Linked DNA regions of Homo sapiens: all the other regions are linked to region 3. Evidence: fine-mapped expression QTL. A gene starts in region 3. Each other region holds a variant in brackets. All regions are shown on one strand. Distances are from middle to middle.

Region 1 (2,851 bases), 32 kb before region 3:
GTATGGTTGTTTCTGTATAAAAGTTTACACATATTTAAGAGAGATAAACATGTATCTTTATCTAAAGGATAATACACATACTTATCTAAAGGGTAAGAAACACTGTACAACACAGAAACACTGTACTAAGTGATAAAGACAATTCTACATTTAAGATTGACCATGTTAACTTTCTCATTAATCAAATAAAACAGCAAAAAACATTTTTGAAACTTTTTCAATTTTTGTGAGTACACAGTAGGTATTTATCCTTTGTGTTACTATCAAATTATACTTTTAGTTATTTTAAAATGTACAATAAAAATGACTTTTTACTCTAATCACCCTGTTAGGCAAGCAAATACTAGGTCTTATTCATTCTTTCTATTTTTCTGTACCTATTAACCACCACTACCTTCTCCTCCAGGCCCCCTTCCCCCACACTTATCCTTCCAGGCCTCTGGTAACCATCACTCGAGTTTCAATTATTTTCATTTTTAGCTCCCACAAATAAGGGAGAACATGTGAAGTTTCTCATTCTGTGCCTGGCTTACATAGTGACCTCCACTTCCATCCATCTGTTGCAAATGACAAGATCTCATCCTTTTCTATGGCTGAATAGTTCTCTATTGTGTATATGTACCACATTTTCTTTACTCATTCGTCTGTTGATGGACATTTCAGCTGTTCCAAATCGAGGCTATTGTGAATACTGCTGCAATAAATATGGATATCTCTTCAATATACTGATTTCATTTATTGTATATTCTTAGGAGTGGGAATGCTGGATCATACAGCTCCGTTTTCAGTTTTTCGAGGGACCTCCAAACTGCTCTCCACGGTGATTGTACTAATTTACATTACCACTAACCGTATGAGGGTTCCCTATTCTCCACATCTTCGCAAGCACTTCTTAATGCCTGTCTTTTGGATAAATGCCATTTTAACTGGGGTGAGATAGCTCATTGTACTTCTGATTTGCATTCCTCTGATGATAAATACACCCATGTGCCATTTGCATGTTTTCTCTTGAGTAATATCTATTCAGATATTTTGCCCATCTTTTAATCAACATATTGGATTTTTATCTATAAGGTTGTTTGAGCTCCCTATATATTCTTGTTATTAATCCCTTGTCAGATGGGTAGTTTGCAAATATTTTCCTCCCATTCTGTGGGATGTCTCCTCACTTTGTTGTTTCCTTTGCTGTGCAGAAGCTTTGTAACTTGATGTGATTCCATTTGTTCATTTTTGCTTTGGTTGCCTGTGCTTGTGGGGTATTTATTCAAGAAATCCTTGCTCACTTCAATGACCTGGACATTTTCCCCAAGGCTTTCTTTTCGTTGTTTCATAGTTTGAAGTCTTAGATTTAAGTCTTGCATCCATTTTATTTTTGTATATGG[C/T]GAAATAGGGTCCAGTTTCATTGTTCTATCCATGGATATCTAGTTTTCCCAGCACAATTTATTGAAGAGACTGTCCTTTTCCCCAAGATTGTCCTTTGTTAAGAATGAGATCACTGTAGATGAATGGATTTATTTCTGGGTTCTCTACTTGGTTCCACTGTTCTATGTGTCTGGTTATATGCCAATACGTTGTATAATTTGAAATCACATCATGCGGTTCTTCCAATTTTCTTTTTTTTGCATAGGATAGCTTTGTTTATTCCAAGTCTTTTGTGGTTCTATATAAATTTCAAGATTGTTTTTTCTATTTCTCTGAAGAATTTAATTGGTATTTTGATAGGGAATACACTGAATCTGTAGATTGCTTTGGTTAGTATGGACATTTTAACAATATTGATTCTTCCAATCCATGAACACAGAATATCTTTCCTTTGTGTGTGTGTTTGCCTTCAATTTCTTGAACCAACATTTTATAGCTTTCACTGTAGAGACTTTTCACTTTTTTGGTTAACTCCCAGGTATTTTATTTCTAGCTGTTGTAAATCTAGCTGTTGTTACTTTCTTGATTTCTTTTTCACATTGTTCAGTGTTGGCATATGTAAATGATACTGATTTTTGTATGCTGATTTTGTATCCTGCAACTTTACTGAATCTATCACTTCTAATCATTTTTTGATGAATTCTTTAGGTTTATCCAAACATAAGATCATATAATCTACAAACAAGGATAATTTGACTCCTTCCTTTCCAATTTGGATGCTTTCTTTCTTTCTCCTGTCTGACTGCTCCGGCTAGGACTTCCAATACTACGTTGAATAACTGTAGTGAAAGTGGGCATCCTTGCTGTGTTTCAGATCTTAGAAGAAGGGCTTTCAGTTTTTCCTCATTCAGTGTGATAACAGCTATGGGTCTGTCATACATGGCTTTTACTGTTTTGAGGAATGTTCCTTCTATACCCAGTTTTGAGGGTTTTTATTATGAAAGGATGTTTAATTTTATGACATGCTTTTTAAGAATCAATTGATATGTTTTTTCTCCTTCATTCTCTTGATATGATGTATCACCTTTGCACATGTTGAACTATCTACATTCCTGAAATAAATCCCACTTGGTCATGATGAATAATATTTTTAATTGTTGTTGAATTTGGTTTGCTAGTATTTTTATTGAAGATTTTTTGCATCAATAGTCACAGATATGTGTTGCGGGAAGTCAGGGACCCCGAACCGAGGGACTGGCTGAAGCCATGGCAGAAGAACATAAATTGTGAAAATTTCATGGACATTTGTTAGTTCTCCAAATTAATACTTTTATAATTTCTTACGCCTGTCTTTACTGCAATCTCTGAACATAAATCGTGAAGATTTCACGGACATTTATCACTTCCCCAATCAACAATCTTATGATTTCCTATGCCTGTCTTTATTTTAATCTCTTAATCCCATCATCTTCGTAAAATGAGGATGTAT
Region 2 (2,851 bases), 43 kb before region 3:
TACCACCCAGATCAATAAACTGCCTCATTTGATCTTGTTGGCCCCACCCAGGAACTGACTCAGCACATGGAGATGGCTTCTCCCTATGATATCATCGCTGACCTGACCAATCAGCACTGCCGGCTCACTGGATTCCCCTTACCCACCAAGTTGTCCTTAAAAACTCTGATCCTCGAATGCTCGGGGAGACTGATTTGAGTAATAACAAAACTCTAGTCTCCCACACAGCCAGCTCTGTGTGGATTATTCATTCTCTATTGAAATTCCCCTGTCTCAATAAATCAGCTGCCTAGCCAGCAGCAGGCAAGGTGAACCCATTGGCAATTACATAGCTGGGATTACAGGCATGCGCCACCATGCCCAGCTAAATTTTGTGTTTTTAGTAGAGATGAGTTTCACCACGTTGGCCAGGCTGGTCTCAAGTCCTGGCCTCAAGCATCCTGCCGAAGTGCTGGGATTACAGGCGTGAGCCGACACGCCCGGTACATTCTTTATCAAGTTAAGGAAATTTCTTCCTGTTCCTAGTTTGCTAAGAGTTCTTTTTTTAAAAATAATGAATAGCCAACACGGGCAGACTGCTTGAATTGAGGAGTTTGAGACCAGCCTGGACAACATGGCAAAACCCCGTCACTACAAAATATGCAAAAATTAGCCAGGCGTGGTGTTGTGGTGGTGCTCGCCTGCAGTCCCAGCTACTTGGGGGTTGCTGAGATGGGAGGATTGCTCGAGCCGGGAGGTTGAGGCTGCAGTGAGCTGTGATCCTGCCACCGCACTCCAGCCTGGGCAACAGAGCGTGACCTTGTCTCAAAAAAAAAAAAAACAAAAAACAAAAAAACACACAAGAGGTCTAAAGTTTTCTTTCCTTATAATGCTTTTGTCTGATTTTAGTATTAGCTTCATGACAGCCTCACCAAATGCATTAGTAAGTATGTCCTTAGCTTCTATTTCCTGAAATAGATTATAAATAATTGGTATAATTTCCTACTGAAATGTTTGGTAGAATTCACCAAGGAACCCATCTGGGCCTGGTGATTTCTGCTTTGAGCAGTATGATTGATTCAATTTCTTTAATAAATATAGGCCTATTCAGAATATTTATTTCTTGTTGTGTAAGCTTTGGTAAATTGTGTCTTTCAAAATAAATTGGTCCATTTCACCTAGGCTATCAAATTTCTGGGCATAGAACTGTTCACAATATTCTCTTATTATCCTTTTAATGTCTGCAGGATCAGTAGAAACAGCCCCTCTTTCATTTTTGATACTAGTAGCTTATATCTTCTCTTTTTTTTTTTTTTTTTTTTTGAGACAGAGTCTTGCTCTGTCACCCAGGCTGGAGTGCAATGGCACGATCTCAGCTCACTGCAACCTCCGCCTCCCAGGTTCACGTGATTCTCTTGCCTCAGCCTCCCAAGTAGCTGGGATGACAGGTGCCTACCACCATACCCAGCTAATTTTTGTACTTTTAGTAGAGATGGGGTTTCATCATGTTGGCCAGGCTGGTCTCGAACTCCTGGCCTCAGGTGATCCACCTACCTCAGCCTCCCAAAGTGCTGGGATTACAGGCATGAGCCACCATGCCCAGCCTTCTCTTTTTTCTTAATCTAGCTAAATGTTTATCAGTTTTATTGATC[A/G]CAAAGAACCAGCTTTTGCTTTTGTTGATTTTCTCTACTGATTTGCTATTGTCAATTTCCCTGATTTCTGCTCTAATTTTTATTACTGCTTTTCTTCTGCTTAATTTGGATTAAATTTGCTCTTCTTTTGATAACTTCCTAAGGTAGAAGCTTGGATTATTAATTTTAAATTTTCTTCTTAAGCATTAAATGAAGCCTTCAGTGCTTATTTAAGCAAGACTTCCTTGAAGCCTTACTTCCCTTGCATCCCACACATTTTTATAAGTTTGTATCAGCATTTCTTTAAGCTCACTGATTTCTTCCCCTGCCACTTCAAGTCTATTAATGAACTCATCAAAAGCATTCTTCATTTCTGTTATACTATCTTTGATTTGTAGCATTTCCTTTTGATTCTTAGTTTCCATCTCTCTGCTTACATCTGTTCTTGCATGTTGTCCATGTTTTCCACTACAGCCCTTAGTATATTAAACATAGTTACTTTGAGTTCCCAGTTTGATCATTCCAACATCACAACCGCATCTGAGTCTGATTCTGATACTTGATCTGTCTGTTTAAACAGTGTTTTCTGTCTGGTATGCACTGTAATGTTTTGCTGAAAGCCAGATATGATATACCAAAGTTAAAAAGAACTGAGGTAAATAGGCCTTTAGTATGAAGTTTTGTTTATCTGGCTAAGAGTTAGGCTTTATTTACTGATTGCTATAGCTGCAGGTGTCAGAGGCTAAAATTTCCACTTGTGTCCTTGTTTTTCACCTCTCCTACTATCTTCAGGTTTCCCTGCAGACCTCTTAAATAAGGTCTGAGACATGTAGTCCTTTCCGTTGTATTCTCATTATTCAAGCACCCCACTGATGTGGTGGTAATGCGTGAAGGGAGGGGAAGCATTCTATGATCTTATGATTAGGTTTCAGTCTTAGTGAGCCTGTGCCCCTGGGCTGCGACCTTCACAGGTGCTTCTCAGTTGTTGATTTTCAGTTTGCTAAGGTTTTTTGTTGTGAGAACGGAAGTGACAACTTCCAAGCTCCTTACATGACAGATCAGAAGTATGTTTAGCTTTTTAAGAAACTGCCAAACTTTTTTCCAAAGGGGTTGTAGCACTTTAAATTCCCACCAGCGGTATATGAGAGTTCCAGTTACTCCATGAAGGCTGGCAGTAGGATGAAGCAAGCAAGAAGCATACGGTACAATATTTAAGGAGGTACCCACTCTCAGATTTCAGT
Region 3 (2,500 bases):
TATAATTGGCAAGCCAAAGTTCCCAAGTCAACGACGGGAGAGCAGAAACGGCAGAGAGGGCCTGCCCTTTCTGTCTATGCAGAGATGGAAGGAGGCAGAACTGAAGAAAATTATTGCACAAATTATTTCAAGCTACATTGCCAAAATGCAAAATACTGAGTAACTCTTTGGGTTAGCCTTCCCCGGAGAGAAAAACAAACAAATGTTTTAACGATTCCAGTAGAATCCAATAGGACTAAGGGCCTGGCTGGAAAAAGAAAAGGAAAGTTTGGGGGCAGCGTCTAAGGGGGTGATGGAAGTTCCAGAGCTGGGATCCCGGAAAGATAAGAGAGGGGCAAGAGCGGCGTTTGCGGTCGCTGACAGGAGGCAGGGAACACAGCTGCCAGCCCCGATCCCGGAGGGAGAGTGAAAAGGAAAAAAAAAAAAAAAAAAGGAAGTGGCGGAGAGGAGCATGGAAGCTTCAGTGCCGGTCAGCTGTGACCGAAACTCGGTCCGTTTGGGGCTGGGGAGGAGAGCCGAGGGGGTGGGGTCTCGGTCCCTCTCTCCGCTGTAGGTCGGGGTGAGAGTGGGCTGAGACGCGCGGGGGGCCGCGGGGCACACCTACCTGCGGGTCCCGGGGCAGCCGCCCTGAGCGAGGCCTAGTGCATCGCCGCCGCCTCCAGCCCTCCACGTCGCACCGAGGCTGCTGCTCCACGGCCGCCGCCGCCCGGCGCCCGGCCGGGCCCGAGCCCGGGTTCCCGCCCCCGCCCCGCGCCCGCTGGCCAGTCGGCCCGGGGAGCACAGGGCCGCCCTCTCGAGCCCAGCTTCACTCAGGGGTGAGAGGTGGCAGCGGCGGCTCCCTCACGTCTCTCCCGGGTGTCCTGTCAGCCAGCAGTTTCCCCCGGGTCCGCAGCGCCGCCTCCGCCGCTGCTGCCACCGCCTCTCCCACATCCCCGGCCTCCAGGGGAGCCGCCGCCGCCGCGCCACGACCACTGCCTCTAGCGCTTCTGCTCCCGACTCCACTGCTTTCCCTCACCCCGCCGGCCCAGCCGGCTCGGCCCGGTCGGGTGCGGGGAGACAGCGCCGGAGGCCGCCGCAGCCCCCAGCCCACAATCCACCGCGCGGCTCCGCCGGGGCGGGAGGGCCGCGGCCCGGGCCGGGGGGAGCGCCCGCCGCCTGGGGAAAGCGGCCTTGGCGCAGGCCGGCGTGCCCGTCGCAGGCGCAGCCAGAGTTCTCTCGGGGCGGGGAATACACCGCGTGGCTCCCCTGCGCCTCCTCTAATAGTCCTACACGCAGACAAATCCACGCTGAATTCCACTTTCCCCACCACCCTTCCCCCCAACTCCCAGTTTTCAGGAACACCCAGAAAACCTCCTGCCGCCTTCCCCGGGACTGGGACGCGACCCCTCCAGCGTAGCCCTCGCCACCCCCAAGACCAACCGACTCGAAACATCCCTAAATCACCCGGGACCTATTAAAGCAAATACTTCCACGAGATTCCTCCTCTCCCCCACCCCCTCGAAGTAAATGCTTTTCAGCTGTTCCCTAGTAAATGCCCTTCCAAAGGTTAAAGGTCACCCCTCCGCAACAACCCAGTTCTCTCTATTGAGGCCTTTTCCCCATCCAGTCCTCCCCTCCAAGTCTTCCCCAAGTTCCAGGCCTTCCTCCCAGACACTGTAATCAGTTATTCCTGTTACTTGACTGAGATACTTGGAGTGTGTATGATAATTAATACCTTCTAATTCTGACTTCAGCCTGGTTTCACAGGACTTGCAACTTTAAACCAATAAAACACAGTCCACAAGAAAGGGAAGGTCTTAGTATATAAATATAAAGACACACACACACACACACACACACATATATTTTAGGAAGAAAAAGATCCTCAATCCTTTGAGTGCTTGTGACTTAATTTTGGGAAGATTTTATTCAATGTTGAAATTCTTGCCTAAAAATAAATTTCAAGCATTTATAAGACATAGTATGTTTTAACAAATCAAAAGTGAAAATGTAACTCTTATAGTTGGGGGGTTGAAAAAAATGTTGATCCAAGTTTCACTTCTAAGAAGTCACTTTGAAAACTGCAAACATAACTTTTATGAAATAATATTTTCCCCACCAAAGAGCTAAAGTTGGGGAAAGAGGACAAAAAGTAAGGAAGCATCAAAAATAGTTGAGAGAAAACTCTTACATTATATTTTTCTAAGTTCAATCCTCTAAAATTATGTAAGAAACAAAGTGAGAAAATCATTCCCCAATATGAAATAAATTTAACTGTAAAAGAGTGAAGTCCTCTTAAATCCCTGATCACTTATAAAACCAGATGAGTTTACATAGAAGCAGAGTAGAATGGTGGTTACCAAAGACTGGGGGGTAAAGGGTGATGAGGAAAGGGGAAATGTGAGTCAAAGGGTATAAAGTTTCAGGTAGGAGGAATAAATTTTAGTGATCTATTGCACAGCACGATGACCACAGTTAATAACAATGTATTTAATATTCCAGAATAGCTAAAAGAGTACTT

Evidence for each region. PIP is the estimated chance that this variant, and not a neighbour inherited with it, causes the effect. A credible set is the group of variants that fine-mapping cannot tell apart.
Region 1: its variant is the best candidate, but not a certain one, in a credible set for the expression of VPS54 in whole blood (TOPMed, PIP 0.68).
Region 2: its variant is the best candidate, but not a certain one, in a credible set for the expression of VPS54 in blood mononuclear cells (TOPMed, PIP 0.88).

Annotation. Positions count from the first base shown.
Region 1 is chr2:63,985,863-63,988,713 of GRCh38, forward strand. The region is part of intron 1 of VPS54 (VPS54 subunit of GARP complex); the gene reads right to left. Among named protein-coding and RNA genes, the nearest start is that of VPS54, 32 kb to the right of the region's middle. The variant C/T (reference allele first, on the strand shown) is at 1,383.
Region 2 is chr2:63,975,545-63,978,395 of GRCh38, forward strand. The region is part of intron 3 of VPS54 (VPS54 subunit of GARP complex); the gene reads right to left. Among named protein-coding and RNA genes, the nearest start is that of VPS54, 42 kb to the right of the region's middle. The variant A/G (reference allele first, on the strand shown) is at 1,632.
Region 3 is chr2:64,018,334-64,020,833 of GRCh38, forward strand. VPS54 (VPS54 subunit of GARP complex) reads right to left here and starts at 1,095. Exons shown (of 23, transcript NM_016516.3): 1 at 605-1,095. RefSeq lists an enhancer at 279-348 and a silencer at 509-1,218.